Linked DNA regions of Homo sapiens: regions 1, 2 and 3 are each linked to region 4. Evidence: fine-mapped expression QTL. A gene starts in region 4. Each other region holds a variant in brackets. All regions are shown on one strand. Distances are from middle to middle. Region 1 overlaps LINC01056 (long intergenic non-protein coding RNA 1056). Region 2 overlaps KCNQ2 (potassium voltage-gated channel subfamily Q member 2). Region 3 holds the start of C20orf204 (chromosome 20 open reading frame 204). Region 4 holds the start of HAR1A (highly accelerated region 1A).

Region 1 (8,050 bases), 44 kb after region 4:
CCCACCCCCAGGGCCTTCCCTTGAGTGACGGATCCCTGGCAGCCTGTGTCAGGGCCACTGCGAAGGCTTCAGAGGGCAACTCTCTGATCTTTCTTGTGATGAAGGCCCCCACCCATCTGGTGGGGCTGTGGCTTGGGCTGGGATCCTTCCGCCTTCCGGGCACCCTGCCCTGGGCCAGGGCTTCTTCCTGCTCAAGGAAGCCCTTCTCCTGCAGCTCAGGCCCTCTTTCTTGCCAGAGCCCCGAGGCAGGAGGCTGGGAGAAGGGAAGGGGGCGTGTCATGCACAGGAAGTACCCCCACTTCACCTTTTCCTGGGTCGGGGACAAAGGGCCAGGCACTGCTGGGGGAAGCAGGACTTCCACAGAGCCCCAGGGCCAGCCAGGAGGGGACTGGAAGGTTCTGAAACAGCTTCCCAGGCAGCCTGAGGAGGGAGGCCACAAACAGCTGGGAGGAGGGACCAGGACAGGATCTGTCTCCCTCACTGAACAGGGATGCTCAGCCGCAGATGGTGACTCACCCTGTGAGCTCTGGGCGCCGGAGCAAGGCCAGCTGGCTGATAATTGGCCAGGACCGACTTCGCTGTTTTAATATCCCGAGTGCCACTCTCCCGCCAGCCTCAGGGAACCATTTCTGTCAGGGCTTTTCTAAGCTTTGACTCCCACTTTCTGCCAAACACCATCGGAAAACAGCCCGATTGTCCCACCTGCTGAGGACCACAGCCATTGTGAGCTTGCGTGACCCCAACAAGCCCTCTTAGGGCCAGGACCCCTCCGAGGACGAGGAGCTGAGTGGGGCTTAGAGCCTGGCCTTCTCCTCTTCCCACACGGGTGGGGGCTCGCCCCACACTCCAACAAGGGAGCCCCCGGCCAGGCAGACGATGGGGTCACATGGGGGCAAGAGATGGAATCAAAGATATCACAAACCAACCGGAGCCGCAGGCAGAACAAAGCAGAGCCAAGGGGGCCTCCGCGCCCCTGCTGACCCTCTCGGGGGCTGCACGCACAGCCGGGGTCCACCTGACCCACTGAGTTAGCCCCAACTGCCGAGGGAGCCCCAGAAGTTGGCTGAGTCTGCAGATGAGGGAAGAGGCCAAGTGCCTTCCCCACGTGGTAGCTGCACGGGGGTGCCCAGGCAGGGCACCGAAGGTGGAGGAATGACCACAGGCCCTCGCGATCAGCCCTCGCCCCTTGGCTGCAGGCTATGCTGTGGCCGTTGTCAAGGACATTTGGAAGCCGGGCGCAGTGGCTCACACCTATAATCCCAGCACTGTGGGAGATTGAGGTGGGCAGATCACTTGAGGCCAAGAGTTCCAGAGCAGCCTGGCCAACATGGTGAAAACCCGTCTCTACTAGAAATACAAAAAAACTAGCTGGGCATGGTGGTGCACACCTGTAATCCCAGCTACTGGGGAGGCTAAGGCACGAGAATTACTCAAACCGGGAGACGGAGGTTGAGGTGAGCGAAGATCATACCACTGCACTCCAGGCTGGATGACAGACAGAGATTCCATCTCAAAAAACAAAACAAAACAAAACAAAACAAAAGGACATTTGGAGCCAGCGCTCACAGTGGCCTGGCTGCCAATCAGTGTGCCCTTAAAAGCTGAATCCAGAACCAGGTAAGGGTGAAATGCAAGGACCCCAAAAAGGGAAAGACACAGACGGTGCAGCCTGGGACATGTGCTTGTTCCTGCGTGTGTCTACTGTGTCTGTTCGCTGGTGCTAAGGAGCTGGGGTTGATCCTGGAGGAGGCACCTCCTACCTCCTCCCATCTGGAGGAGGCACCTCCTACCTCCTCCCATCTGGAGGAGGCTTCTCCTGCAGTGGTGCCCAGCCCACCTGAGCCACAGCTGAAGGGCCTTCGCCAGCCCCTGTGGCCTCCCAAAGGGGAAAGCGGGCTCCTTAATGGGCGAGGAGCTGGATGACCAGCAGGCAGCAGCACACCCTCCCATGCCTCCCGCGCTCTGTGGACAGCCACCTCTGTGCGCTCTGGAGCCTGGGGCTGGTCAAGCCTACAGGGCCCCACCACCTGGGAAAGGGGGAAGTCACCTGTGGCCCTGAACTGGGGGGCCTCAAGCCATCTGCCAACAGAGGAAGTCAAAGGCCACCAACAGGCCATGCTGACCACAGCCTGGTCACTGCTGGCGCAGAAGAGGGGCTTGGAGTCCGAGGACTTCACCATGAGCACCGTAGGGAGGCAATGCCAGACCCCTGTTGGTGTGGTGTGTTTGAGGATGCACACAGAGCACAGGTGTGTACACACTCCCATGCAGGCACTCACAGAGCTGGTGCACACAGGGCAATCCACACACACGTGTACACACAGAGCAGTCGGACCTCTCTCTTGAAGCTGTATCCAAATATGCTTCCCTCTCACCCACAGATCCCCCAAGGCAGGGGCTTGGGGGTGTTTCCTGAACCACAAGCCGCTCAGGAGGGAGAACAGTTAACTTTGTTTCCCAGCCCTGTGTCTCAGCTGGATCCACAGACTTTAATAGAGTTTTACAAGAGCTTTGCCCTGATCTGTGCTGGCAACCAGAATTCAAACATCACCCATTAACGCCTCGTGAAAATGTCCTCAGTGTGAGTGACTGACAGGGTTTGGGGTGCGGCATTGCCTCTTCTCTTCTTGCATTTTTTTCTCTTCTCACCAGATGGATTTATTGAATTGGAAAGAAAGTCACAGAAATATTTTGTCTTATATTGGTAGTTAAGATATGAGATTAGCCAGGAGAGAGGGGGAAGAAACTTCAAAAAATGAAGGACAAGAATGTTGGGGCCAAGGCATGCCCCCTTCAGAGAGAACAAAGGAGACGCTGCAGCTCCAGGGGCTGCTGAGCTGCTGCAGGACCTTGAGTCCTGCTTAGACCAGGAGAACTGGACACTGCTTCTGGCAGCAGCTGAACAGGAGGGAAAGGTACCTTACTCTTTCCCTGTGTACAAAGGAGTGACTGAGTAAACAAATGAGTGAGTGAGTGTGTGTAAATAAATTAATGAATGTGTGTGGATGAGTGAGTGAACAAGTGAGTGCATGTGTGTGAAGGAATGAGTGAGCAAACAAGTGAGTGTGTGAATGAATGAGTGACTAAAGGAATGAGTGGGTGAACAAATGAGT[GAGTA/A]AACAAATGAGTGTGTGTGAATGAATGATTGAATTAGCGAGTGAACAAATGAGTGTGTGAATGAGTGAATGAAGGAATGAGTGAGTGAACAAATGAGTGTGTGAATGATTGAGTGAAGGAATGAGTGAACAAATGAGTGTGTGAATGAATGAGTGAAGAAAGGAGTGAACAAATGAGTGTGTGAATGAATGAGTGAAGGAATGAGTGAACAAATGATTGCATGAATGAATGACTGATCAAATGAATGTGTGAATGAATGTGAGTGAACGAGTGAATGAAGCAATGAGTGAGTGAACAACTGTGTGTATGAATCAGTGTGTCCATGAATGAGTGAATGTGTGTGAGTGAATGAGTGAAAGAAATGAATGAGTGAACAAGAGTGAGTGAACAAATAAGTGTGTGCATGAATCAGTAAGTGTGTGCATGAATGAGTGAATGTGAATGAGTGAGTAAACAAATGATTGTGTGTGAGTGTACAAATGAGTGTGTGTGAATGGGTGAGTGAACAAATGAGTGTGTGTGAATGAGTGAGTGAATGAAGGAATGAGTGACTGAACAAATGCGTGAGTGTATGTGAATAAGTGAATGAATGAGTGAACAAATGAGTGTGTGTGAATGAATGAATGAAAAAAGGAGTGAACAAATGAGTGCATGTGTGAATGAGTGAATAAGGAAATGAGTGAACAAATGAGTATGTGTGAATGAATGAGTGAATGAAGGAATGAATAAGTGAACAAATAAGTATGTGAATGAATGAGTGAACAAATGAGTGTGTAAATGATTGAGTGAAGGAATGAGTGAACAAATGAGTGTGTGTGAATGAGTGAATGAGTGAATGAGCGAGTGAATGAATGAGTGAATGAGCGAGTGAATGAGCGAGCGAATGAGTGAGTGACTGCATGAGTGAGAACCTGGGAGTGCAGGCGGGGCCGAGCCGCCGCGGTCACAGTAGCACTGGGGGCGGTGGGCGGGAGACCCCTCCTTAGAGGCCCACGTGCTGGACCCCTCAGCTCTGCCAAAGATGAAATGCCCCCAGACGGGCCAAGGGCTACCCCCAGTGGTTGCAGTAGTGATGGCGCCTCCCCATCCCTGTGGCTGTCGCCTGTCTGCTGCTTTCCCCAGAAGACTTGGGGGCCTGGAGACCCCAAAGTGTGGCGTCCACTGCCAGCCCCGCCAGCCCCGCCAGCCCCGCCAGCCCCGCCAGCCCTCTGCTGCCCTCTGCTGGCCAACTCGATCCACAGCGGCTCCTGGCGGTCGAGGGGAGGGGGACCAAAAGGGACCACAGGGGCGAATTGGGACGATGTCAGCTCCTGCCAGCATCACGGAGCCGGTTGCCACAGTGACGGGCTGCTGTGCGGGCCCTCTGCAAAGCAGGGAGTGCAGCCGTCCTCATTCCACCAGAGCCAAATTCCTCACGCTCTGCCTCCCAGCGAAACCCATGTGACCACGGGCCCAGGGAAGGGGGAAGGGGTGTGGGAGCGGCCGGGCCACTCTGTGCCCCGGGCACCCTGGGCATCGCAAGCCTGGCTCTGCCTGGGACGCCCTCAGCTGGCCCCTCATTCCTCCTTCCAGGTCAGGCCTCCAAATGCTTTCGCAGCCCTGTCCCCGCCAGTCAGACCCGGAGGATGCCAGGGGTCGCCAGTGGCTGCCCTGCCCAGCTCAGAGAGGAGACGATGTACTCAGCCAGAGTGGAGGCCGGGGGCCTGACAGAGGCAGGCGGCACCAGCCAGCCCCCCAGCCCTGTCCTGAGGCTGCTGAGCATGACACCCACTGGGGAGGTGGGCAGCTGACCCAGGGCCTGGCAGGGAGCCGGCTGTAGCACTGCCTGAATCAGGACCCAAGCTCCAGCTGCTCCTGCTCCAAGCTGCCCCTGGCAGCTCTGCCAGCATGCAGGGCACAGCCATGGAGAGGGGACACCCACATGCACTGGGCCAGCTGCAGGCCTGCAGGGCCACCGGGCATCTCACCCATCCTGCCACCCAGCGAGGACAAGGGGCAGAGGAGGAAGCATGGCATGAGGGAGGGTGGAGGGGGAAGAGGGGAGGGAGACCCCATGGCCTGGGCCCCAGCCCACCCCCAGGCCCAGAGCTGCTGTCCACGTGGGAGGACTGGGGCCCCAGGAGGGCGGAGGAAGACCCAGCTCCCGTGGGAGGCTGCCAGGGACTCCCCTGCAGGTTAGGAGCCTCCAGATGTTGCTGCAACATCGATCTTTCCCATTTCTCGAGTTATTACTTTATGTAAACAAACACGAGAGTTGCTGGTTCTAAATAAAGTTGTTTGTCTATGTAAATTAATATATCATATTCTCTCCTGAAATAGAATTATTTGTCTCTGGAGGAATCACGTTAAAGACTGACATAGGGTATAACTGTATCATTTACATATGCAGATATGTCTAATTATTCAACTTGCAATTAAAGGCTTGTGTGTCAGCAAATGAGACTAATTAGACACATTTATCTATGATAATCAGCTTTTTACAAACAAAATAGATCCCCCTTGGTTGATCAGGGAAAGCTGCTGGACCGGGGCCCTTCTCCCGTCGGGCACCTCTCACCAGCCTCACTCCACACCCCCCAGCTACACCCCAGCCCTGGTTTGTGGGGGACAGGGAGAGCCCAGGCTTCCCGCCCTTCAGAGGTGGATCTGAGGCAGCAGTCACGAGGCCTCTCAGTCCCCACTGGGGTTGGGCCCCAGCTGCCCAGCCCTCCACTGCCCTGGCCCCTCCGGCTGCCCCGGCCCCTCTGGTGTGCTCCTGGAACTGCCCCCTATTAACTCCACACACAAACCCTGGTGGGGCGTGCCCAGAGGGCTTGAGGAGCTACTACCTTGCTTTCAAAGCTCTGTGCCTTTGAGACCGTGACTGTGTGGTTCACACCCCCATCTTCAAGGCTGGACTCTCCTGGCCCATGGACCCCGCTGGTTCTCCCCTTCCTGGGCACCCCAACTCCACAGCCCTGTGCCCCTTGACCAGGCTGTTTCTGGCCAGGGTGGGCTGACATGCCGGGGACTTGATGGCCCCGGAGCAGTCTCCAGGCAGGTCCTGGGTGAGAAAGCCCTGGGCAGCTGAGGACCTGGTGAGGCTGAGCCCAGAAGCCTGGCCGTGGCCTGCCTGATGGCCGCCCTGGTCACTGGGCATCTCACCTCCCACTCACCTGCTGCTGTGCTCTCAGAGTCACCTCCAAAATAAACAACTTTCCCTCCTTAAGTAGGATGAACAGGGCCCCCAAATATGTCCACCCATAACCACAGAATGTGGCCTTATTTGGAATAAGGTCTTTGCAGATGTAATTAGGGTAAGGATCATGGATTAGAGTGGGCCTCAAATCCCATGAAGGGTGCCCTCATAAGAGATGGAGAAGCTGAGACAGGTAGATTTGGAGAAAAACGCCACGGAAAACAGAGGCAGAGATTGGAGTGATGCGGCTGCAAGCCGGGGACACCAAGGAAGGCCTGGAGCCACCAGAAGCTGGAAGGGACCAGGAAGAAACCACACCCCCTCCCAGAGCCTCCACAGGAGCCAGCCCTGCCCAGAGCTTGCTTTCAGATGTCCAGCTCCAGAACGGAGATGGAATGAATCCTCGTTACTTAAAGCCACCCAGTTTGAAGTAACTCGCCGCCACGCTGGGACACCTCCCATTCCTGCTTCGGGATCTACTTCTGGGGAAGCCCAACCTTAACCCGTCATATTTTTCTTTAAGTTAAATAAACGAATTGATTTAAATACCTGTTTTAGCCTTTGACCTAAGCAAAAATATCTGTGAAATCATGGGCTTGATATACAAATTTAATTTTTCCAAATACACACTCAAAATAAGTACTCGTAAAATGTAAATGGTCATCGAAGCCTCCGCCACCTAATCTCCCTCTGGCTGCAGCCGCGCCATCCTCCGGAAGGAGGAATCACCATCACCGTAACCATCACAGACCAGCGCATATAACAATGCACTTTCAGATATCATTTCTAGATATTTATAGAACCTGTGGATTCCAGAGCAGTGTGCACACTGGTGTGTGTCTTTGTGTGTGCATTCACTGTGTCTGTGTATGCCTGGGCTTAAGGAAGAAGAGCGTGTCTGTGGAAGATGAAGAGGGCAGGAAGCCTCTTCACAAAGGCTCTCAGTTGCTTGGCGATGACTGAACCGAGAGCTGAGTGAAAGGGGTGGGCGTCAGCGGAGTACTTCTGTTGTGTGCACCTGAGCACGGGCTCACAGAGCTCCTGGAGGCCCCGCAACCCGACTGTTCAGTCGAACAGAGGACATACCGGGAGGTCCACCACTGTGTCCACCGCTGTATTTCCAGTGCCTGAAGGACCGACCGCCCCATGGGAGGGCTGAGAACTTGTCTGTGATGAGGTCACTAACAAACAAGTGAGCTGGACCCCTGGGGAGGGTCAAAGAAGGAGCTCTGACAAGGGGCAGGGGATGAGGTGAGCCTGGCGCTGAGAACAGGGACAAGCAGATGTAGGGCCCCTGACCCTCAGACCTGATAAGGAGGGCCCAGTCCCTTCCCACCTCCGTGTCCCGGATGACTCCATTGGCCACACCCACCCAGAGGCCAGAGACAGATTGCTGGGACATCCATGGAGGTCAGCCTCCTGGGGCCCAGAGCGGGGCTGGAGGGGTAGGGGAGGCTGGGCTCCCGGGGTCTTGCTACGGCCTCTGTTCCGGGCTCTGGGCTCATCTGTGCCGGGGCGTGAGTCACTGGTGCATGGGCTCGGCTCTCATGTCCTGGACTCTGTGAGCAGCAAAGCAAGGGGCTCTGCCAGGGCTTCCCCGCAGGGAGGCAGCAGACCCCTCACGCTGGTGGGCACTTTGGACCTTGGCTTTGCTTTCAAGTCCTGCCCTTTTTTAGCAAGTCGTTAGTATTTTAAGTGCCTTTCAAGAGGCTGAGCCTAATTAATTAGCCGTTTCTGAAAAAACAATTAGGGTTT
Region 2 (8,050 bases), 320 kb before region 4:
TTAGCCTGGTTCCCTCTCCCGGGCCCCGAGGTTCTGTGGGTCGGGCAGATTGGAGACAGGACTCGTGTAAGGGCTCTGCTGGGGTGAAGGATGGAGACAGAGAAAATCAAGATCCTTTCACAAGTTAATTCTACGTCTGCTGAGCCCCAGCCCCCGACACATCACCCTGAGGAGGTGCTAGGCTTCTCTGGGCCCCCTGTGCCCCATCCACATGTTGCAGAGTAAATCTGGCCCCTTGGACCTGGGGTCCGAGATGGACGCCTGGCTGCCCCTCCTGGACTGCGGGTGACAGCTGGCGAGACACTGCGGGGCTTGGGTGCGGGGAGATGGAGTGGGGCTGAGCTGCATTTTTCCAGCCACCCCACATCCCACAGAAGGGGAGTCATGGTCAGTGCCTTGAGCTGGAAAGACGGGCAATGCTTCCGGCCCACACCAACCAAGAAAACCACCAGGGGCTCATTCATCCTCTCAAAGAGGCTAAGAAAACGGACGAGGGCCCAGAAAGAGCTGGGTCGGCAGCGTAGCCTCTGCTGGTGCCAGCCCCCAGTGCTGCCACTGCCTCCCCCGCCCCTGCTGCTGGCCCTGAGGCTGGGAGTGGCTGTGGGGATGAGCACTGTGCCCCCCACAATGGGCACCCTTGGCTGTGATTTGGGCGGAACCTCGGTGCTGTCCCAGGTGGACGCGAGGCTTCCCGACGGCTTCCGCGTGGCAGGGCCCCACGCCCTTGCTGGGAGCGACGCCGGAACCCGCCCCGTGCCTCACGGCCCCTCGTGCTCGCTGCCCCAGCCCGGCCCGCTCCACGTTCTCGTCTCAGCCTCTCTCTTTCTCTCTCTCCCTCCCACCCTCCACTCCACCCATCTGGACACCCGCTGCCCCCAAGTGCTTTAATCCCTGTTACTGCCCTTCTCGGGCCCCTCTCTCGTCTGCCCTCTCTTTGGGGATGAGGTGCTGGCCCTGAAGGCGAACTCCAGGTGAGGACACGCGGGAGCCTCCGGGCTCTCCGGTAAGCTCTGTGGCTCCCCACCCCTCCCCCGTCTCTTCCCCATGTGTCCGGGGGGTCCTTGCCTGTGCCTCCCACGCCCTCCCCCACGGGCGAGCACCCACCCGCCCCGGCCCTCCTCCTGGGACGCCTGTGGTGGGGGACGTGGGGCTGCTGGGTCTGGGGCTTCTGGAAGGTGCCTGGGGTGCGGTGGGAGTGAGGAGCAGTCTCTGCCCTTGAAGACCCTCCCCGCCCATCCTGGGGTGCTCACCTGGCAGGTCACGGGGTGGCATCTCTGTTCCCTGGCCTGGGGCAGCCGCAGCCTGTCCAGTGTAGGGTCGTGCTTAGGAAGTTGTTCCGCAATCATTGCCTGCCACGTCCCTGGGCTGCTGGGTGAGGGGCCTGCTCTGCGAAGCTTGATGGGGAGCTCGGCTCCTGGCGCCCCTCTGCTGCCTGACCTGGGCTCTGTGAGTCTGGTGGGACCTGTGCCTCCGCCTGCCCTTTGGAGGTGGAGCCCGCACCCCGCATGGCAGGACCCCGCTGGTGTCAGCTGGTCTTGGCAGGTGGATGGTGTGGACACAGGGACCCTCACTCACTGCTGAGACCCCCACCCCCATCCTGGCTCAGAACACAGGCACGTGGTGGCAGGCGACCCGGCTGGCGGGGGCTCGGTTCCCGTAGGGACCACTGGGGCTGTGCTGGAGTCAGAGGAAGCGTCTACGTTGGGGTCGGGTGGGGAGCCAGGCAGGCTGCGGGGCTCGGGCCGTGCTGCCCCAGGGGGGTCCCGGGGGGTCTCTTTGGCCACGGCGGTTCTGACTTGTGCTGTCTTGTCCGACACCCCATCTCACTGCCTCCTGCCCCCGTGCTGGAGGAGGAGCCCCCAACACCGGCTGCCCCCTCATGCCTGTGCGGGCTCCCCCGTGCCTGTTCGGGCTCCCCCTCCTCTTCTCAAGCACACGTGTCCGCGTGTTTTTGGTGCATGTCTGTCCTGTCGGGTCTCGGTCAGTGTCTGTGGGTCTCGAGCTCACTGTGGGCCTGTCCGCCTGTCCGACCTCGGGTCACAGGGCCTTCTCACGCAGTGTGGAGCTCCCTGTGGCTGATGGGGCAGGAAGGAAGCCCAGTGCCAGCTGCGGACCCCAGGGGGAGGTGCAGCTGCACGGGTCCCCCACAAAGCTTTGGGGGTCTTGGGGGGCTGTGCCTGCAGCGCCTCCCTGCCAGCTCTCCCCGGCTCTCAGACCACGTTGCCCCATACAGGAGCTGCCAGCCACATGTGGCTGTTAAAATAACATGGATTATAACGGGCACGGTTAGAGATTCACTCTCGAGTCTCAGGTGCCTGGTGGCGACAGCCGGAGCTTCAGTGTGGCTACAGGACGATCCCATTGCAGAATCGGGCGGCAGGGCCGGCCCGGGAGGGGCCTCTTGGTCAAGGCGATCATGCTGGGGTCAAAACAGGAGACCTTGGGAGGTTTGGGGAAGCGGGACCCTGCCTCCTTCATGCTCTTTCCCTGGGGTGGGGAAGGTCTCCTGGGGCCCTCCAGGCAGGGGCTCTGTGCTTGGGCCTGGGTGGTGCTGGTGGGAGTCTGAGGTCTTTGCCTGCCAGGAAGGCCTGGGTGTCATCGTAGCTGGGGTGGTCACAGCGGGAGAGACTCTGAGCAGCCAGAACCTCAAGCCAGGCGCAGGGAGCCGGCTCCCTCCTGCCTCGTCCCACCGTCGCGTTCGTGGTTAACCAGCAAACAGAGTCCAGCCTTTGCACTACATCCCTTCGTGCCTGGGGACCCCAAAGTCGCTTGTGTACTAAAAAGCCGGACCGGCACGGGGGCTGGGGTGGAAGCCGGCCACCCGCCCTTGGAGTCTTGCAGGCTGGTGGGGCTTGGGGAAGGGTCCAGAGCCCTCAGCCTACCCGGGCGGCTGAGTGCTGCCGTGACTGGAGCTAGCCGTGTCTGTGACGCCGCTCGGAGAGCTGCCTGCGGGTGCGTGCAGGGACATCGGTGTCTAAACACACGTGTGCGCAGGAAGACGGGAGGCTGGGTGCTTTCTTCCTAGAGCCTGTGTGTTCTGAGTGGATGCCGTCGCCACGCTGGGGTTCCTGGGGCACCGAGTTTGAGAAGTGCTGTCTCAGGAAGCAGTGGCAAGGAGGTTGGGGGTGGCTGGGGTGGGGAAAAGGAAGAGTTCTTGAGTTCTTGGTGATTGGTTTCATTTTTTGCTTAATCATTTGCACATTGTGATGCAGAGCTAAATCGCCAGGGTTTTTGGGGAGATTCTTGGGAAAACGTTCCGTGTTTTCTGAGCCTTTTCTAAGGAACGCCCCGGCGGGGAGCTGCGCTCCTGAAGGGCTTCACAATGAGGGGATCCACTGAGCCCCAACGTGACTGTCCTCAGGGGAGCCCTTGAACCCCCAGATAGCCATGCCTGCAGTGGCAGCCACGCCTCCTGGGTAAACCGAGACCCACCTCCAACTGGGGGACTGGCTGGCATGGCCAAACGTCGCCGATTGGTTTGCAAAGCGGGACAACTGCACGTTTTCCTCTCTCAAATGTGTGTGCTTCACACCCACGCCCTTTCCCGGGGTCACGTCCTTCCCAAGCAGGGCTTCTGCGGCGTCTGAGGCCACATGTATTATTGTTTTGTCAGCATGAATACTGCAAAAAATAATACATCTTTTAAGACATGAACCCAAACTGTGGCTTTGGAAGGAAAAGGTATTTTTGGAGGAAAAAAAAAACAGGGATTTTTTTCCTTCAGAAATAGGGAAGTGTTTTCTTCTCCGGACGGTGGAGACGATGGTGCACCTTCCTCGCTGGCCTTGCTTGGGCGCAAGCTCTGCCGCTGGGGACTGCACACAACACCCTGGGTGGTTGCAGTGCCTCAGTTTCCCTGCTCCCGGCCGTGTGCTGTTGCCGGCGCCCAGGACTAACTGTGCTCTCCTCATTTCCAGTAAAGGCAGCCCGTGCAGAGGGCCCCTGTGTGGATGCTGCCCCGGACGCTCTAGGTACCGCGGAACACGCCGCACGGACTGACGGCTGCTGCACGGCTCCTCTGCCCCTCCCTGCTTACTAGAGGTTCTGGAGGAGCCAGGGGGAGGCTGGCGCCCCAACCCCAATTCTGACCCACCGCCCTGGCGGTGCGGGCTCAGCTCCCTCTATTCTAGCCGACAGCTGCGTGCAGGGCGGAGCTGGGGGAAGGTGCTTCTTCTTGCTCCCCACGCCAGGCGATGTCCTGCGCACAGCCAGAGGGGCCAGCCAGGGGCTCTGAACCCAGCAAGGCGTCCGTGCCTCCTGGGGTCCCCGACTGCTCTTCAGGGAGCGTTTCCCCTGGGGCTGTCACTCTAGCACCTCTGCTGCGTACCTGAGGATGACTGAGCCTTCCTGGCTGCCTCGACCGCGGGAGGCAGCTCCGTCTGTGTGTGCCGGGCTCCTCAGGGTCCTGATGCATCAGAAGCCCCAGAAAGCCAGAGGCCCGCGGCTCCCTCTCCCAACAACAGGCCTGGTTTAGGGCAGGTGGAAATAGGACGGGGGAGGAGCCGCCCCCTTTGCACCGTGGGCTCCTGGCCTGCACCGTGACCCGCACCTCCCCTGTCCCCGCGTCCCCTGTCTGCTGTTGGGTGTGTGCAGGCCTGCGCTGGGGGCCCCTCCCTCCTGGCCAGCACAGCCCAGCAAGGTGGAGGTGGCTGTGTCGTGCTCCTGTGGGGCTCTCCTTGGCATGTGCATGCCGCCGGTGGTGCTGGCCTTGGAGGGCT[G/T]GTGGGGCTGCATGCTGCCTATCTGCATCCGTGCATGCTTCGGACCCTGCTCCATGGGGGGCCCGCGACTCCATGCCACCCTCTCCCTGTGACTTTGCTGCTTGTGTGCTTCTGGGGGCGTTGGTGCTTGCGGGGAGACTGTTGGCAGCTCCAGAGAGGGAGACGGGCGTGTGGGCTGCCTGGGGCATGGCCTGCTGGGGCGCTAGCAGCTGTCCTGCGTGTCCGGAGCATCTATTCAGGGTGCTTCTGGCCGCAGGCTGGTCCCTCAGGGCAGGGGCTGAGGTCAGGCTGCTTGGGGACCAGAGGGGTTTGAAAGTGGGGGTGGGAGCCCAGGCCAGAGAACAACCCAGGGCAGGCCCTGTCCTGCTGCGAGCAGCCCCCACGGGAGGCCCCTTCATCCTCACGCTTCCTGGGCGTCGTTGGTCCGGACACCAGCTGGGCAGGGGTCTGGATGCTCCTCAGCCTCCTGTTTCCTGCGGGCACCGCACATCTGAATTTCACCATTGGGAGGGAGGGTGGCAGGCCGGGTGGGGATGGCGCGCTCTCAGGTGCTTCTTGAGCCTGCCCCGGCCCCGTAAGCCCCAAGCGTAGGTGCCACGGACGCCCCTCGCACACAGAGGGCAGCTCTGGCCGAGGGCTCCTCCCAGGTGGGTGGCGGCAGCTTTTCGCGTGCGCTTGTTCTTGGCTTGTGGCCGAGGGAGGGCCTGCGAGACCACGCGTGCTCCTGGCAGCTGAGGCAGGCTGGCGGGGTCGGGTGTCTGCAGCATGGAGCCTCACCAGCTGTGCTTGGAGGGTGCAGAGTTTGGGTCATGGTGGAGGTCCAGGGGAGGGAAGGACATGTCCAGGTCGCGCCACCCTCCTCTTCCTGGCAGAGCCTCCCTCGCAGATCTGAGGTGGGAGCGGAGCCCGAGACCCGGGACAGCAGGGCCGCGCCGAGGCCAGGGCAGGCTCCTTCCCGCCGGCTCTGTCTGGGGCAGTACACGTGGGCTGCGTCCCGGCGGCCCCTGGGGCTGTGCTGGGCATCGGGTCCAGCAGGGTGTGTCTGCCGCTGGCGGGGCTGTGGCTCCTTGTCGTGGTCAGCGGGGGGTCCCCCCTGAAAAATGGGAAGCAGACGTCGGGGCTGGGTCTTCTCTCCTGGGGCCTGTGGAATCCACGCCACTCCCTTCCTGCAACTCCCTGCGGACTGTGGGGCCTGACCCTTCCTGGCCCGCACGTCTGTGTGGCCGCCTGGGTATTTGACCCGTTCCCCTCCGGGGCCGCAGGTGGGAATCTGATGCCCATTCCTCAAGCTGTGCCTTTCCCACTGCAAGCCCTCAGCACCGGGCTCTGCCCAGAGACCAGCCAAGGGCAGCCCCGAAGCTACAGTTGGGCCGACCGGCTCTGTCCTCCACCCGGTGCTTTGCCAGCTGCCGTGAGAAAGGAGGTGGCTGCTTCTCTCTCTGGTGACTGGACCTGCCTCGGGTGGAAACGCAGAGAGAGGAATTGAGTCTTCCAGTGACTCCCACTTGCCCTGAGGCCTGCCTGAGCGGGGTCAGGAGGGGCCTATTCTTGCCTTTGAAATGGCTCGTGCGGTGGAGAAAGAGAGAACATTCCAGGAGTCCCGCTGAGCCTGTGCCCATGTGCTCCCCTGGCCCCCGTCCGGTTCTCCCCGACCACCTGTGCTTTTGTTGTTGGGATGGGGACCAGAGGCCGTTGGGACAGAGGCACCCACAGCACCAGGACTCTGAGCACCCCTGGCCCCCATGGGCACGGTGTGTTGGCCTCAGGCAGTGCAGGGGTGTGGACTCAGGACTGGGGTCCTGAGCGAGCCTGTACCATCGGCTCCTGACGTCCCCAAGCACGCGACGCCTCGGGACTCGGGGGATCTCGGCCACTCCGTCTCTGCTTCCCCGAGCGGGCACAACACCCAGGGGCTTCTTTCTTTCTCTCAGAGACGCCTGAGTGGGGACAGATGGTCTGCTGAGTGGGCACAGATGGTCTGGGCGGTCACCTGCTGCCTGGGGGATGGGGTGGGGAGGGGCAGCCAAGCGATCCGCGTGTCCAGGCCAGGCAGACGGGCGCGGTGGGCTCTCATGTCTGTGGCTGGTTATCTCTGTGCCGTCTGGTGGGCGTGTCTCTCTGGCTGTGGGTCTGGAGTCGGGGCTGATGGTGGCTGCTGACCGGGGCCTCAGTCCCTCGCTGTTGGCTGGGGAGCCGCCGTGGGATCAGGGAGCCCGTGAGGCACTGGGCTTCCTCTCTGAAGTGTGTCAGGGATCTGCGGGGCCTCCCCACCCGAAGGCTTGTTTCAGGCTCCAGCAACAGTGCTCTGGGCCCTGCCCAGAACCACCCTGAGAAGTTCCGTGGCTGCTAAGCATGGCTGGGCATGAGCGGGTCCCCAGTTCGTGAGAGCCCCACTGTCCTCAAGGGAGCCAGGGGGTTCTGATGCTTTCCAGACCTCAGGAGGCCACATCTGCCTGGCGTCTCCCAACCACCAACCACAGTGAACCCTCCCCTCCCCTCACTGTCGCCCGGCGGACGCTGGAGTTGAAGAACTCGGGTGCAAACCCATCTCCACGGTCACCAAAAAACTCGGGGGCAAGGCAGGCCCAAGGACCCCCCGAGAGTATGGAGCTGGAGACCCAGCCAGACACAGCTGCAAATCCTGCTTCACGCCTCGCAGGCCGAGGGGGCCGGGCCACAGCGCTGTGGCTTTGGAGGCTGCCTCCCCCTGCCCTGGGGCAGGACTTGGATAGTGAGGCCCAGCTGGCGGAGGAGCCCCGTTATCCATTCCTTCCTTCCAGAAGCCGGAAGGAGCAGTTCTCTGACACGGACCTGGTGGGAGGGGAGCCTGACAGGGGAGGCCTGAGCCCTCCTGAAGCCCATCCCACCAGGCAGGCCCCCGGGGTGGGTGGAAAGGCCGGAGTGTGGCTGAACAAGGGTCCACCGCAGACTTGGCCCCCAATGTCCTTGTTGTCCCCTGGCCCCTCGACTCTGGGGCAGAAGGAGAGGGACAGGCCGTGGGAGGGGAGGAGGGAGGCTGCTTCCTGGGAGCAGTTACGGGTGTGAAAAGGCCACAGGGGAAACCACGGGCGGGGCCGGGGCAGACAGAGGTGCCCGAGGAAGAGCCACAGCCCCGGTGTTTGGGATGCCCGTTGCCCTGAGTGTCACTGGGTGAGGGGCTGGCAGGACAGTGTGAGGAAGGCTCCGGCACCTCGTGGTGGTAGCGGAAAGTGATTTAAGAGTCCACAGACATCAACTCTCCCCACATGGCCAACCTCTGGCCACGCCTGAGCCAGCCGGGGGAGCTTGCTGCCCACCCAGCCTCCCCTCCCTCCCTCCCGCCGGGTGCTCAG
Region 3 (8,050 bases), 930 kb before region 4:
GTCCCAACTGGCCTGTTAGTACCACTTCCAGGCTCAAGCCTCAGCCCAGCTTAGAACAGGGTTGCCCGGCACCCAGGAGCCCCCCTCCCCCAACTGCCAGAAGCCAGGGCACATGCACCCAGTGCCACCCACAGGGACGCAGTGACCAGAGCCAACCGGAGATTTCCTGGTGGGGCTCAGGGGAACAAGCAGTGTCTCCTGAGCTGTGTGTACCCCCAGCCCCTCCACCCAAGTAAGCCCCCTCCCTAGAGGAGGCCCACAGCTGCTCACCATGGGCCTTTCAGGGTCTTGCCCTCCCTCACTCCCGCCAGCAGGCCACGCACATGATCCTGGGGTCCTTGGGCAGGGTGTGCACTGCCGCACCAGGTCCAACACCAGCCAACCGCTTCCCTGGACAGGCTGCCTGGAGGACTGCAGAGGGGCAGGCCAGGCGGAGGCTTTTGAAGTTGGCTCCTCCAAGCTGAGGGAGGGAGCAGGAGAGGGAAGGAAAGGCCACGCAATCCCAGCCCTGCCCCCTCCCTCTCTCCACTCCCTATCACTTCAATTAACCTGGCCCTGGAGCTGGGCAGCCACCTCTCCCAGGGGATCCAGGGCTACTGTGGGTCTTGGATTAACTTGTCCGTCCCAGAGATACTGTTCTGTCAAGGAGGGGTGAGGCGCCGCGTGGGCTGGGGCAGTGCAGGGCCCAGCTGGTGGGGGAGGGGAGCCAGGTGAGACTGGGGCCGACTCTGTGGCCAGCAAGTGCTGCCTCTCCCAGGGATCTGGCTGATGGGCAGAGCTGGTGGGAGGCCCTCATCCCCTCCCCAGCTGCCGGACCTGCAGCCTGACATCCAGGGGGCCCTGCCCCAGCAGGTCCCAAGACATGGGGCTTCCCGGGCCCCCGCTGCTGGCCCGGCCTCACTCCTCCTGGGCTGAGGGGTCTCTGGCTGAAGAGGTAAGTCTGAGGCTGTTACTCTGCTGCCTGCCGTAAAGATACCCAGGAGCAGGGTGGGCTCCCCCGATCCTTGGCTGCTGTCGCTTCTGCTGTGGTCTGGGGCACTCTGGTTAGCAGCCTGACAGGCAGTGGTGAAGAGGCACCTCAGAACACGAGCAACCTCTGAGGCACAACTCATCTTTGCAGGCTGAAAAAATTTCAGTTGAAGACAAGTTAAGGTAGTTTCCCAGGGGGAAAAGTCAGTGACTCACAATAGTCAAGAACAGACCACACAGGTGACAGGAGTCCCCTAGGATTGTAACACTGCATCTTTACGTTTTTGCCTTTTCCGTGTTTGGATGTGATTAAATGCTGTGACAGGCTGTGCAGGTCTGCAGCCCAGGAGCCCCAGGCTCTGGCACCCGGGCACACAGCCTGGGGGTGCAGGAGGCCGTGCCTGCCAGCCTTGTGTAAATGCACTCTTTAATGTTTGCAAGACGACATCACCTAACGAGGTTTTTCTCAGAATGTATCCGCACTGTTAAGTGGCGCACAACTGTGGTTTGGCCAACTCAAAGCATTTGAGAAAACCCCACACAGGCAAGAAAGAGGAGACACTCACACATGGACAATGTAAGCGCTCCGGAACTTTCCAAGGGCCCTGCAGGAAGTATCCCCTGAACATGGCCTGAAACATTCTTTTCTGTGTGACCCCTCAATGCCCACCCAGCACTGGCCATTTCAGCTCTGAGGTCAGAGAAGGGCTTCCTTCCTACGCCTCGGTTTCCACATCTGTACAGGGCCAGGCTGGCTCACAAACTTCCTGGGCCTCGGTTTCCACATCTGTACAGGGCCGGGCTGGCTCACAAACTTCCTGGGCCTCGGTTTCCACACCTGTACAGGGCCGGGCTGGCTCACAAACTTCCTGGGCCTCGGTTTCCACATCTGTACAGGGCCGGGCTGACTTCACAAACTCCAAAAAGCTGCAGGACTCTCTTCATCTTCAGAATAAATGTTGAGGGCTCCCTCATGCTTCCGTCTCTCCATGAGGGATCAAAGGAAACTCCTCCACAAGTTCCAGTGAAAACACTCATGAAGCTCCTGCAGCTGCTCCTCAGGACGGGGCGAGAGGAAGGACTTCCACATTCCAACGATTTGAGCTGGACCCCAGGTTGCCTGCCCAGCAGAGACCAACCAGCAGTTCCTGACCCCATACAGGGGTGGCAGGTCCCTTGCCCGGGATTGACCATGTCCTCAAGGTCCCCAGAACCACAGGGAAGGGGGACCCACACCCACATTCTGGTCTACCAGGACCGCCCCACGTGCAGGCAGGGATCTCCCACCCCAGCCATTCTCACTCGTCAGGAGCAGGGCAGGCAGACCACAAGGCCTAGCACAGGCCCCCATGTGCAGGTGGGCAGAGCTGTGGGTCAGTGACTGACCACCACCACAGGCCCTGCCATCGGTACCACAAGACAGGCCGGGACCCTCCAGGGCTCCCCTCTCACAAGGAACATCCAGGGACAGCTGCTCTCCAGCAGCCTCCTCAGCCCACATGACAGCGCCCTCCTCCCCGCCCGCTGGCCTCAACGACTGTCCACCCACACCCTCTGGGCCAGCCATGACCTCCAGCCAGATGTCTCTAGCCCCGGCCTACACAAGAACCAGCTGGCTCCCAACTGAATGCACACACATGATCCCAGGCCTGAGGACGTCCTTTATCCTTACACAGCTAAGGCTGAAGAGAAGCCAAGTCTCTCGGGTGATCAACGTTCAACCTAGAGATGAGAACCATCACTGTTCAACCTGGAGATGAGAACCATTACAAGGGCTTTAGGGTTAAACTGCGAATGATAAATTAGCAAAGATAAACTCACGGCCGGGTGCGGTGGCTCACGCCTGTAATCCCAGCACTTTGGGAAGCTGAGGCAGATGGATCACCTGAGGTCAGGAGTTTGGCAGCGGGCGCCTGTAGTCCCAGCTACTCGGGAGGCTGAGACAGGAGAATTGCTTGAACCCAGGAGGCAGAGGTTGCAGTGAGCCGAGATCGTGCCACTGCACTCCAGCCTGGGCGACAGAGCGAGACTGTCTCAAAAATAAAAAAATGAACTCACCTCCAAAAGAAAGAACGCCTCTTACTGGTGACACTGTCACTCAGCACATGCCTGAGGGGCCCGGGAGGCTGTGTGGAGAGGCCCTGCGCAGAGCTGGGTTCTCCTGTTTGCACTCAGACCCCAGGGAGGCCCCAGCTGTCCCCTGACCAAGACCCTTGCAGGCGGCTGCCAGGCTCCTGCGAGCACCTGCGTCCTGCATGCAGCTTGGTCCCCACTGTCTCCAGCTGTCCTCACAGGGCTTTTGGCCAGAACATCTGCACCCCTACCACCTTCTCCACAGTCTTGGGGAACCCGGGCACCTCCACAGTGCCTCCTCTGTGAGACACCGGCTGTCTGCAAGAGGCTTCTGTCCAAGCAAGGGCGATCACAGCCACCCCAGGACGGCATGGGACAGGCCAGGACAGGCCAGACTGGGGCAGCAGAAGCAGGAGCCAGAGAAGGGCCCCAGAGAAAACCAGCAGGCTGCCTGTTCTGACACGAGACATAAAAACTTTTAATGAAGGAGGACACAGCTCAGAGCCCTTCCACATGCGGCCCAACCCTGCCCCACGGAGACCGGCCATGGCAACCGCTCAATCAGAAGGTGTTCTTGATGCGGCCGGCCACCAGCCTAAGGATGTCCCCGATCTTCTTCTGCCAGTTGGCGATGTCCTTGGACACGGCGCACCACAGCTCCCCATGCCGAGGCTCTGCACTCTCACAGCGCTTCCTCACCTCCTCCTGCTGCTCCTGGGGGGACCACAGGGCACGTCAGGCAGGGGTCCTCCCACGCTACTCCCCGGACCTCGCCTGCTTCTCGCCTGGCCCCTGCAGACCTGGCCCTGGCAGCACCAACCCCAACTGGCGGGCCAGAGGGCACAGGCCCTGCACCGGAAGGCAAGGCTCTTTCAGGTGTGTTCCTCAAAGGAGCCCCACCTCCTGAGGAGCATGGACCCCACCAGCCTCAGCCCACAGATGAGGAACTGAGCCAGGCTCCCCATGTCTGTGCCTCACACAAGTGCTCACGTCTGCCTTCTCCAAACAAGGAGTTAGGGTTCACGTGGGCTGGCAACACTTTCCAGGGAGGACCAGGACAGCCTGACTGCCTCCAGCACAGCTCAGACAACGCTTGGCTCTAGCGGGGCGGGTGGGAGCAGAGGGGCTGCTGCCCAGGCTGTCCTAGAAAGCCACACTCAGGCTCAGGCCCAAGAAAAAGGCCAACTCCATTCCCATTCCTAAAGTGAGCCCAGGCTCCAGCCAGCAAATAACTCGTTAAAATACTCCAGCAGACAGGCCACCCTAACGGACAGGGTGCCTCAATTCCAGGGTGTGGAGCTGTGAGGCTATAACCAGAAAACGGATGTGGAGGCAGAGACTGCCTTGTGGGGAGGTGTCGAGGATTC[T/C]GTGCCCCACACACCCGGTCCATCCTCCCGACCCCGGGCAGAGTCACGCTGGCCGTGGCCACCTCCTAGAGCCCCCAGGGCTGGCGGAACTCCCCGCCACAGTCCCAGAAGGCACTGAGCGGCGGTCTGTCGAGGGGCCTCACCTCAGTGCCATGCTGCAGCTCAAACTTGTAGAAGAAGGCCCAGGCATCCCCCAGGTCCGAGTCAATCTTCACAGTGCGGTGGAACCACTCCCTGGCCTTGGTGATCTTCCGCTGACTCCAAAACAGCCTGTTCCAGCAGAAGGACGTGAACCCAGAGTGAGTGGCTGCAGGACGGTATTCTGGGGCAGGGGAACGGCTTCAGGGCCATCAGCTTCATCCCTGACCCGCAGCCCTGGTGCTCCCCTCAAGAAGGCCTGAGGATCAGGGCCTCGGCTGATCCAGAAATAATTACCCCAGATCATTAACTTGAAGCTGCCCTTCACGGGTCTAACCAAATTGGTTTTTTTTTGTTGTTTTTTTTTTTTTTTTTTTGAGAAGGAGTCTCGCTCTGTCGCCCAGGCTGGAGTGCAGTGGCGCGATCTCGACTCACTGCAAGCTCTGCCTCCCAGGTTCAAGCGATTCTCCTGCCTCAGCCTCCTGAGTAGCTGGGATTACAGGCATGCGCCACCACACCCGGCTAATTTTTGTATTTTTAGTAGAGATGGGGTTTCACTGTGTTGGTCAGGGTGGTCTCAAACTCCTGACCTCATGATCCACCTGCCTCAGCCTCCCAGTGCTGGGATTATAGGCATGAGCCACCGCACCTGTCCCAAACTGTTTCTTAAAAAATTCACACGCAGGGAAAGATCTTCCAACTCCGTAAAATTAGGGTCAGATACAAGGAGATGAAACTAAACCTGACACAAAATTAAACTGCAACTTTGATGAGGGAAAGTTATACAGTTTCAGCTCCTCACTGAGACACCTGCTGGATCATCCTGCCCCACCCGGCCTCCAGCAGCAACCCCAGTGAACACTGAGAAGATGGGCTCCAGGCAGCACAAGGGCCTGGGCCTGCAGCCCACAGCCCTCAGGCCACTGGATTCACACCGCCGTGCCTGCCAGACACATGCACACCTGAAAAACCGGGCCCGAAGAGGTCCATGCTATGAGAGGCCAGGTAAGGGTGTGCATGGCACCCCCACCCGCTGCTGGAGAAGGGATGGCGGGCGCTGGCTGCTGAGCATGCTGGCAGGCCCGGGACTCTGCGTTGCTGCCACCCTCTCCTCAGGGTCACCTCCCCCTGGAGCCAGAGGCACCGTAGTCAAGAGACAACACGAGGAGCCTCCACTCCGGGCAGCTGTTCGGGTTCGTCTCAGTTGCCAAACGGAATAATTTCACACTCTGATAACCTGATTGTTTTTTAAGCCTTGTGGTATTCTTAATTGCCCGGTGTTAGATAAACTGTGATTTAAAGAGCACAAACCCAGATAGCAGACACACAAAACACTGGCTTGGGAATAGCAAGGAGTGACTTATTTACTTTAGCAAAGCCTTTTATAAGGTTTTATGGCTGCACTATCAGAGTGTCACCCAGAAGTCACTCTGGGAGGTGAACGCACAGGGCAGGACCAAGGTAGCACCAGGCAGACACAAGCCTCCCTGTGGGGAGCCTCTCTCATCTGTCGGGGGCCTGCGGGCAGGGGAGAGGAGGTGCCCCTACAGGCAAGCCTGTGGGGGCGGCACCCAGACCTCTGGAGACCAAGCACCACTGCCACCCAGTGCTGGGGAGAAGGGATGGAGAGAATCAAAAGCCAGCACTAGGAAGGCTGTTGTCTCTGCATGACCCATGGCGGGGCAGGTGGAGGGGAAGCCGGACACAGGAGAGCTCCTGGGGCCAGACACGCCACCTCTGCCAGGTGAGCCCACGTCCTGAGCTGCAGCCTCAGGAACCCAGGGTTCTTCCAAGAACTCCCTTCACCCCACATGGTCACTTCCCAGCCTCCTGACCCACACTCAGGCCCAGCTCCTTCCCAGACTGTCATCCTCTTTCTAGAAGGAAACAGGGACCCTGGGGGTCGGGGATGGCCCTGAGCTCCCTGCTGTGCCCCACACCTGGCGGGTCTTTGCCCACATGTGCCTAGAGTCTGCATGCTCTGCCCCATGGCTACCCGCTGCTGCCTGCAAGGTTCCAGAGTCACGTCCCCAGTGAGTCTCTGACCCAGCGGCCAGCGCACCAGTGTGAATCACACGCGTCCCCAGTGAGTCTCTGACCCGGCGGCCAGCACACCAGTGTGAATCACATGTGTCCCCAGTGAGTCTCTGACCCGGCGGCCAGCGCACCAGTGTGAATCACATGCGTCCCCAGTGAGTCTCTGACCCGGCGACCAGAGCACCAGTGTGAATCACATGCGTCCCCGGTGAGTCTCTGACCTGGCGGCCAGCGCACCAGTGTGAATCACACGCGTCCCCAGTGAGTCTGTGACCCGGCGGCCAGCGCACCAGTGTGAATCACATGCGTCCCCAGTGAGTCTCTGACCACGGCACCCTCAGGTGTGTCTGCCAGGAGAGGCGCCTGCCCCAGACCACAGCAGGAGCGACGGCAGCCGAGGATCGGGGAAGCCCACCCTGCTGCCGGGCATCTTTACAATGACCAGGAAGAGGCAGACAGACTCTGGAAAAAGAGCCCATTAGGACCCCGAGGTTCAGCAATCCTGTGGGGGCCCCACTCACTTGGCCACGGCCAGGAGCACATGGGGGTCATGCTCACACTTCTTCAGGGCATCCACGCTCTTGGTCCTCCTCTGGGGCCTTGCCTCGAGGAAGATGGCCTCAGACCACAGGATACCTATAATTCAGAAACAAAGAACAAAGATTTGCACTCCAGCCTCTGGTTCCGGAAAGGTGCCCAGCCTACAGATTCTAACCCGGGACGTCCTCAGACCACGACAGGGGCCTCCCACACACGGCTCGCAGAACTTGTGCAAGGAGAACCACAAAGGATGAGCACTCTGGCCCACCCAAAACCATGGCAGCCCTGAGGGCACAGACTGGACACCCTGCAGAGTCTCACTCTGTCATTCAGGGTGGAGTGCAATGGCGCAATCTCAGCTCACTGCAACCTCCCACTCCCGGGCTCAAGCAATTCTCCTGCCTCAGCCTCCCGAGTAGCTGGGATTACAGGCGCCCGCCACCATGCCCAGCTCATTTTTGTATTTTAGTAGAGACGGGGTTTCACCATGTTGGCCAGGCTGGTCTCAAGCAATGGACTCCTGGACTCAAGCAATCCTCCCGCCTCAGTCTCTCAAAGTGCTGAGATTACAGGCATGAGCCACCACACCTGGCCAATTTCTTTTAAATTTTAAAAGAAAAAGAAATGATAACACTTCAGAAATGAAATCAAATTCTCCCATTTTGAGGCCAAGAATTTCATTAAGTTGTCTTAACGGCCGAGTATAGCTGAAACTTTTGACTGAAATGATTCACACAAACTACACATTTTAATAAAGTCCGTCTGAAGCCTGAGCCCCCACTCCCTCAGGAAGTGCCAGCCCTGCGGAGTCTGGGAAGCCAGGAAGCACCCCCTTACCGGAGTCAAGGCACCCCCTTACCGGAGTCAGGGCACCCCCTTACCGGAGTCGGGGCACCCCCTTACCGGAGTTGGGGCACTCCTGCAGC
Region 4 (8,050 bases):
GTTCACACCAGGCCCCTCTTCTGAGTCCTGGGAGGGAGGAACAGAGGGCGGCAGCAATGATCCGTCCACACAGAGAGTGGGCGGGGAGCAGGCCCACCCCGGGGCCAAGACTGTTGGAAGAGGAGTGGTGACATCGGCCAGGAGGAGCGTGTGGCCCCAGGCTCAAGTCCCCGGCATGGCCCAGCGTCCAGCAGGCCTCAGCTGCAGAAGTGCCATCTGCTCCCAGCAGGGTCTGTCCACACTCCTGGAACCCAGGGGAGGTAGGGGCACCACCGCGGGGCTTTCTGAGGGCAGTGCTGCCCTCCCTGCCCCAGCCGCTCTCCCCCAGGGCAGCTCGTGGGCATGTCCCTCTGCCATGGCCTTTCCTGGTAACACCACAGTGGGGCCAGGCAGGGCAGCGGAGTGGCAAAGTCAGAGTCCTCCTTTTCAGGCAGGCTTGCTCCTCTGTCTGCCCTTCACAGGTCAGATTGCGTGGGCAGTGAGTGGCACATGGTGAGGGCTCCTGGGGGGGCAGGGGTGGGAGAAGAGCTGGGGAGGAGGGCACTCAGGGAGCCATTGGCCCCCAATGTCCTGGGAAGCCTGGGGTCTGGATCCTGAGAGCCATGGGGAGCCTCAGAGCAGGGGTCAGCAATGCCTCCAGCAAAGGGCCGGAAAGAATCCAGCTCCGTCTGTAGCCTCCTGGTATGTGCCTGGACACACGAGCAGCCATGGACAATATGAGAAAGAGTGAGCATGGCTATGTCAATAAAACTTTATTTATGGATAGCAAAGTTGACTTTCATAGCATTCTCATATGTCACAAATATTAATGTTTTGATTTTTTTCCAACCATTTTTAGCTTGTGGGCCCCAGAAACACAGCAGTTGGCCTGACCGTGGCAGACATCATTAATCAATCCTGCACACTCTCCAGCTCAGCCCCGTCCCTGATCCCAGGGGGCTGCTCCACAGGACAGCAGGAGCCCCCAAGCCAGACTGGAGGTCCTGGGGGTAACCTGGGTGCTCAAGGCTCGCTCTGTGTGTTGCCACCTCCGTTTGCACCCAGACCCTCCTGTGACGTGGCTCAGCAAACCTCTTAAATGGGTCATTGGATGCTAAACTTGAACTTTCACAGGGCGGGGTTTCTTCAAACGGGACACACCAGAGTCCAGGCCAGGCTGGAATCCTGCTGCCGGTGCCTGACCCAGATCAGGGATTCCAAACACCCATGGGGCCCCTGGTCCCGCCCTGAAGCCAATTCCAGCTGCCCCCAGGAGTGTGAGGGGCCTGGGGGTGTCTTCCTGGGAGCTGCCAGGTGTGAGATTGACCCAAGAAATGGGACCACAGGAACCCAAAAAGCTACAGCTGGGTGGCCAGGTCCACCATCCACGCCCTCAGGTCCACCAGCCACGCCCTCAGGTCCAGTCTTCTAAAGGTCAAGGGTCTCTGACCAGGTGGAGCAGAGCACGTGACTGGGCAGCTCTTCTCTGCCTGGAACGCCCATCTTCTGTCTTGAGGCAGAAAAATCTATTTTAGAGGGTTTCCAGGCCTGGCTCCTCAGAGGTGCGGGAAGATGTTCAGAGCTGAGACTCTGGAGGGAACGGAGGGGCAGGGACATCCCAGCCTCATCCACAAAGGCCCCCTGCACGACGATCCTCCCTCCCGCTCTGCTCCTCTGCTCCCCGCTCCTTCCTCCTTCCTCCCCGCTCCCTCCTCCCCACTCCTCCTTCCTCCCCGCTCCCTCCTCCCCACTCCTTCCTCCCCGCTCCCTCCTCCCCGCTCCCTCCTCCCCACTCCTCCTTCCTCCCCGCTCCCTCCTCCCCACTCCTTCCTCCCCGCTCCCTCCTCCCCACTTCCTCCTCCCCAATGCTAGAAACAGGCCCCTCCGCACCTTGCCCTGGCTGCAGAACGCAGCTTAATTACATGGTCTGCGGGTTGGGGCCCTGAGCGAGGCTGGGGCTGGTTCTTGGCCAAGACGCCTCCCCAGCCGGCTCAGCCTCCATCAGAAGCGGCAGCTCTGATTGGCCACCGTGCACCGCGTGGAGCGCCGTTCCTCGCAGCGAGTTCATGAGGCATTTCACTGGGGGCCCGGGCACCCGCCTTGACATCAATTACGCCAAAATTAAGTGGCAGCGTCCACTGCGTGGGGCCCGAGCTGTGGGGCCTCTTCCGTCTCCCGGAGCCCAACCGCGGGCCCCTGCGCCCCGGCAGGCAGGATCTCACCGCAGGGGCGGCGGTGGGGAGGGGAGGTCAGGCCCGCTTCCCCGGAGCGGCCCGCAGCTCCCGGCCCAGGTTCCCAGGCTGCAGCGTGAGGGGCGCGCAGCGGGGCCGGGTGGGCTGGGGCCGGCGCGGAAAGCCCTCGCCCTGAAAGCCCAGGCCGGCCCCAGCCCACGGCGCTCGCGCCCACCGTGCCGCGCGGGCCACCGCCCACCCGGGGGCTGGTTAGAAACGCGGACTCTGCCCCTTCGCGCCGCCTCCGGGGCTCACGGGCGCCCGAGTCGGAAGCCCCGCCCTGGGGAGGCCGGTCTCCTCGCGAGGGCCTGGGCCGCTCTGGGCGCTCGGCCCGCGTGTCGGGGGCTCCCCGGGGCGCCCTGGGCTCCTGCTGCTGTTTCTTCCTGGCCGGCCTTGAGGTGCGGAGCCCCCGGGCTCTGCTGAGGGCCTCCCGGCCCCGTGGCCTCGGTGACCTCGGTTCAGGCGTCCGTGACCGTCTCGCCTGGTGGCTCCGCGCCGCTGACCTCGGCACGCCGCGGGCCTTCCTCCTCTTGCGGACCGGAGGGAGAGCCGGGCGCAGAGACCGAGGCACAGTCGCGCGGCGCGGCGTTCCGCGTGACCCTGCGGTTAAAACCCGCGCGCTGCAGCATCGCGGAAAACGGGATTCGCCTCATTTGAAACTTGAGGAAAATCTCTAAACACTTTCATTTTGATAGAAACCATTTCCGCCGCTGACGTGCGTCTACGCCCATCATTTCAGCTGACACGTTGCTGTAACGTCTCCTCCGTTTCATGCTCTTTCGAACCCTGTCAGCTGCGGGTAAGACTGTAGAAAAGAGAGGGGAGAACAGGGCCCAGCCGGTGGCGCCGGCGTCTTAGCAGCCGATTGCGCAGCTCCCGGGCGCGGCGGAGAGTCCGGGCTCGTGGGGAGCGCCGGCTCCAGAGCCCGCGGAGCAGCAGCCCAGACTCCCAAGACGGAGGGCACCGGGCGGGCGCACACACTAACCCACGCAGGGGACACTCAGGCTCTAACTCACGTGCACACACGCTCACATGTACACACGCACACACGCACCCGGACGTACACACACAGCTGTCGCCTACCACACACATTCATACTCCATTCACACTGCAGGATGTGCAAATGTGTGTGACAGAGAGAGGAGGGAGAGAGAGGGGGAGAGAGAGGGAGAGAGAGGGAGAGAGAGGGAGGGGGAGAGAGGGAGAGGGAGAGGGGGAGAGGGAGGGAGAGGGAGGGGGGAGAGAGGGAGAGGGAGAGAGAGAGGGAGAGGGAGAGAGAGGGAGAGAGAGGGAGAGAGAGGGAGAGAGGGAGAGAGAGAGGGAGAGAGAGAGAGGGAGAGAGAGAGAGAGAGAGAGAATGTGCCTCTCAGGAATGGTCAAATATCCTCCTGACACACCTGGTTGGCCCAATGCAGGGACAGAGAGGGGGATGACCTGATGGCTTTGCCTTCCACCCACCCAGCGCCTGCCCATCAGTACAGCAGGGCTGCCCTGCCCGCCTGCGACCCACCTTTCCCGACAGCCTGTGTGCTTTCTCCCCGAGTCTCCAGGACAGCCCACTAGTGGCATGGCGGTTCCCTGGGTGGGAGGAGCGGAACCCTTCAGGCCCCCTCAACACTCCCCCAAAACCTCCCTGGGGGCCCCCACTGGCTTCAGCGCCCTGCAAAAGGCTGACTAGGATCCATGTGCACACTCCGTGTGCCACTGCTGCCAGGGCCCCCAGCCCCAGGCTGCCTCCCTCCCTCTCTGTCAGGAGCTGGGTTGGCCTGGGAGGGTTGTGGTGCCGCTGACTGCTCCCGGGCAGGGGCCATCTCATCTCTGTTCTCACCGTGCAGGCAGCAGCAGGAAGGGAGGCAAAAGGAGGGAGTGGGGAGAAGGAGGGGGCGCTGACCACATGAAGAGACGCTTCTTCCCTGGTGCTCCATCTCCCTCCCCGTCCCCCAGTGGACACCCTGGACCAAGCTGAGCCCACAAGGGTGCCCACCCTGCATGCTTGTCCCCATCAGCTCCGTGTGGCCCCCTCAGGCAGTTTCCACAGTGAGCTCAGGTGCAGCAGGGGTCCCGAGCACAGAAATGACCAGGAGACCCTGGCCCTGCCCCTGGGGCCCTAGAAACAGCTCCTGCTCTTGAATTCCCCACCCCTGTGTGCTCAATTTCTCTGGGCCTCTGGGTGCTTTTGAGGTTCCTGGCATTTACCAAGGAGAAAGATGCAGGAGGGGAGGCTGCAGGGCTGTGGGGATGGTGAAGTCCAACCCAGCCACCCCCAGCAGGATGGTGTGTGGGGCCGGACACCTACCAAGATCTCTTCCCAGCTTTTCTGTGGGAAGGAGCCGGCCAGGGCCAGAACCCTGGCTGAGACATGAAGCTAAAAGTGCCTGAGGACTTGGTCCCAGGTCTCTGTCCTCCTCCCCAAATGCCTCCGGAGCCTTCATCTCTTCAGGCACCTCACTCACTTCCACCCAACCCCGCCTGCCCTGGGCGGACCCTCCCCCAGCTCTGCCCTCCCCCACACCCCAAACCCACCCTCCCCATTCTGTTAAAACAAAGCCCCTCTTAGCAGGGTATGTCACGTGGCGCTGCCGAATTATTCCATTAATTTATTATTCATGATGAAAAATTATTCTAATAACATTTCCATACTATTAATATTCCAAAGACGAGCCGTTGAGAGCCCCTTCCTGCGGCCTCCTCTTGGCGAGAGCCAACTCTATTTTTAACAAAGTGTATTGAAATTTAAATCTAATCACCCACAATATGCTACGTTTCACAAATACGCTCTCAAAGAGTCTGTGAGAGGAGCCAGGCCCGGTGGTCCCGGAGGAGGCAGGCGGGTGGGCCCCTGCCGTGGGCGTTGGAGGTGCCATTCTCGGCTGCCCCCAGCCCTGCAGATGGAATCTCTGTGCCACAGCCCCTTTCCTCACTGGGGGAGCCGGGCCAGGCGACCCCTCCTTGCTGCTTCTCTCCCTCCCTCCTTCCTTTTTTTCCTTGTCCCACCCCTCAGTCCATCCAGAGACTCTCAGAGTTTGGCTCTAGGCAGGGGGTATACGGGGGTCTCTAACGGGAGCTGACGTCTGAGGTCAGGCGTCCTCAGGAGAGGGTGGAGCCGCTCCCTGGCTGAGACAACCTTTTCTGACCACTCCCTCCTCCCTTTGGCTGCCTTCTCTATGTGGAGGGGTCTTTGGCCCCACCCCCAATGCACACTGCAGCCCAAGGTGGGCTGGAGTCCAGCTGCCCAGGGAGGGTCCTCATGGGCACCTTGGGGGACATCTTGTCTTGTTCCCTCTTCCGAGGTCGTGCCACATGCCTGCTGCACACAGACACCTCCGTCCATTGCTCAGTCATACGTGTACACACAGGCAGCCTCAATCATCCATCCGGCAGGGGGGGACCTCCTTCTGTCTGGGCTGGACATGGAAGAATGTCTGTGGGAACGGGAGGGTATGAACGTCACAGGAGACAAACAAGGTCTGCAGAAAATACTGAGGGAGCTGCCTTGATAGGAGGTGAAGGGGCAGGGGGAGGTGAAGGGCCAGATGTCTCCCAGGAGGGAAGGGAGGAAGAAGGACCAGGTGCCTTCCTGAGGGGAAAGACCAGGCACCTCCTTGGGATGGGAGACTTCTACAAGAGAAGAGAAGCAGCTCTTCCAGGTGGGTCTGAGGGAGGAAGGGATGGGGGTGAGAACTTGGGTTGGGGAGGACACTCTTGTCTCCATTAAACTGGAAGTAGGATGTGAGATATAGGGGCCAGTGAGCAGGAGGCCATGGAGGAGAGCAGAGCGGCTCATGGAGAGCCTGTCATCCATTCATCCATCCATTAATTCATTCACCCATTCATTCATTCATCTATCCTTCCATGCATCTGTCATCCATCCATCATCCATGATCCATCCATGCATTCACCCATCTATCCATCCACCCACTCATTCATTCATCTATTAATCCATTCACCCATTCTTTCATTCATCTATCCTTCCATGCATCTGTCATCCATCCATCATCCATGTTCCATCCATGCATTCACCCATCTATCCATCCACCCACTCATTCATTCATCTATTAATCCATTCACCCATTCTTTCATTCATCTATCCTTCCATGCATCTGTCATCCATCCATCATCCATGATCCATCCATGCATTCACCCATCTATCCATCCATCCACTCATTCATTCATCTATTAATCTATTCATCCATCATCCATTCATTTATCCATCCATCATCCATCCATCAATTCATCTATCTACTCAATTCATCCATTAATCTATTCATTCATTCATCCATCATGCATTCCTCCATCTACCCATCATCCATCCACCATCCATCATCCATCCATCTGTCCATTGCTCACTGCACCGGCTACCTGGCTTTCAGTAGGATGGGACCTTGAGGGTTCCAGTGTGTGTTGGGGTTTGGGGTAGATCTGCATTCCTAAGTAAGAGCCGGAAGAAGGGGCTGAGTGGAAGCCACATGAATTTGATCAGGGAGAAAAGGAAAGCAGGGAGGGGCTGACCTTAGACATGCTCAGAGCTGCTGTTTTGTGGGGGCAGCCAGACGTCCCCCTCTGTTAGGGAATGCACAGCCTCAGTCAGGGCACGGTCGCTCATGCCTGTAATCCCAGCACTCTGGGAGGCCAAGGCAGGTGGATCATGAAGTCAGGAGTTCGAGACCAGCCTGGCCAACATGGGGAAACCCTGTCTCTACTAAAAATACAAAAAATTAGCCGGGCATGGTGATGTGCGCCTGTAATCCCAGCTACTCAGGAGGCTGAGGCAGGAGAATCGCTGGAACCCAGGAGGCGGAGGTTGTAGTGAGCCGAGATCGCGCCACTGCACTCCAACTTGGGCGACAGAGCGAGACTCTGACTCAAAAAAAAAAAATTAAAAAAAAGGGAATGCACAGCCTCTGTGTAAAGTCCTCTCTGGTACCCACTGCACAGATGGGGAAACTGAGGCTAAAAAGAGGGTGACGCCCCCCCAAGGTGTGCAGCCAAGCAGCTCTGTCCGCATTCTCTAACCTGCCGTGGTACAGTGAGGGTGGGTGCTTGGAGAATTCATTCTCCCAGGCCTGGCCTTCAGAGGAAGAGGAGTTAGGAAACTCCCCCAGGGACCCCTGTGTGTGTATCAATGGTACCTCGGAACTGGGAGGACACAGGTGCGACAGCCCCATCCCCAGGGGAAGCCAGGGACCTTGAGGCTATGGATGGGATGCCCCTGGGCCCTGGGCATTGGGGATTTAGCCGGCCCCGCACTCCTCCTAAGCAGGACGTGGAGGGTGAGCGGCTCGAGCTGTGTCTGAATCCAGCCTATCGCCAGCCTCAGAGGCGGAGGCAGCACCTCACAGCCATGCATCTCCCCACGTGTGGGGGAGGGCCTGTCCCCTTCCCACCCCCATCCCCACCCCACTCGCCTCGTCGACGTTCCGTTGAGAGGTTTCTAATCCCTCCCCTGTGAACCCAGCGGCGGGCGGATGTGCGTCCAGGGAGTGGGCAAGGGTCCCAGCCTGGCTGCCCAGGGGCATCCTTGAACTCAGCAGCCTGCTGTGAGGGTCAGGGCTTGGCCGAACAACAGGTGGACAGTCCGAGGGGAACATGCCACCATCTGTGTCTGGGGAGTGTGGACCCCAAGCCAGGTACAGGGTTGTGACCTGGAGCAGATCTGGGCTCCATGGGCTTCCTGCATGCAGCCCGCCATTCCACCCCAGCCCCACCCTGGCCTCAGCTGTCCCTTAAGCAGGGGGGATGCTAATCCTGACCTTGGGCTTCCCTGGGGCAGAATTAGAGTGCAAGCCCCATCGAGGGGTCAGCTCGCAGGAATTTGGCAAGTGTCAGACCTCACGCCAGTG

Evidence for each region.
Region 1: its variant is fine-mapped to the expression of HAR1A in whole blood (INTERVAL, PIP above 0.99).
Region 2: its variant is fine-mapped to the expression of HAR1A in cerebellum (GTEx, PIP 0.96).
Region 3: its variant is fine-mapped to the expression of HAR1A in prefrontal cortex (GTEx, PIP 0.91).

Annotation. Positions count from the first base shown.
Region 1 is chr20:63,052,884-63,060,933 of GRCh38, reverse strand. It overlaps LINC01056 (long intergenic non-protein coding RNA 1056), which reads right to left. Exons shown (of 6, transcript NR_033369.1): 5 at 7,668-8,029; 6 at 7,071-7,422. Among named protein-coding and RNA genes, the nearest start is that of LINC01056, 19 kb to the right of the region's middle. RefSeq lists enhancers at 1-489, 490-1,332 and a silencer at 4,292-4,492. The variant GAGTA/A (reference allele first, on the strand shown) is at 3,114.
Region 2 is chr20:63,415,540-63,423,589 of GRCh38, reverse strand. It overlaps KCNQ2 (potassium voltage-gated channel subfamily Q member 2), which reads left to right. Exons shown (of 17, transcript NM_172107.4): 12 at 3,918-3,971. Among named protein-coding and RNA genes, the nearest start is that of KCNQ2-AS1, 29 kb to the left of the region's middle. RefSeq lists an enhancer at 5,387-6,034. The variant G/T (reference allele first, on the strand shown) is at 4,719.
Region 3 is chr20:64,028,547-64,036,596 of GRCh38, reverse strand. It overlaps PRPF6 (pre-mRNA processing factor 6), which reads right to left. Exons shown (of 21, transcript NM_012469.4): 18 at 8,028-8,050; 19 at 7,106-7,220; 20 at 4,553-4,679; 21 at 3,497-3,756. The coding sequence ends at 3,604. It overlaps C20orf204 (chromosome 20 open reading frame 204), which reads right to left and starts at 415. Exons shown (of 4, transcript NM_001387010.1): 1 at 271-415. The coding sequence starts at 273. RefSeq lists enhancers at 1-72, 1-135, 1,023-1,252. The variant T/C (reference allele first, on the strand shown) is at 4,410.
Region 4 is chr20:63,097,074-63,105,123 of GRCh38, reverse strand. It overlaps HAR1A (highly accelerated region 1A), which reads right to left and starts at 3,832. Exons shown (of 2, transcript NR_003244.2): 1 at 1,870-3,832; 2 at 738-1,569. It overlaps HAR1B (highly accelerated region 1B), which reads left to right and starts at 2,805. Exons shown (of 3, transcript NR_152601.1): 1 at 2,805-3,009. RefSeq lists a silencer at 2,367-2,756.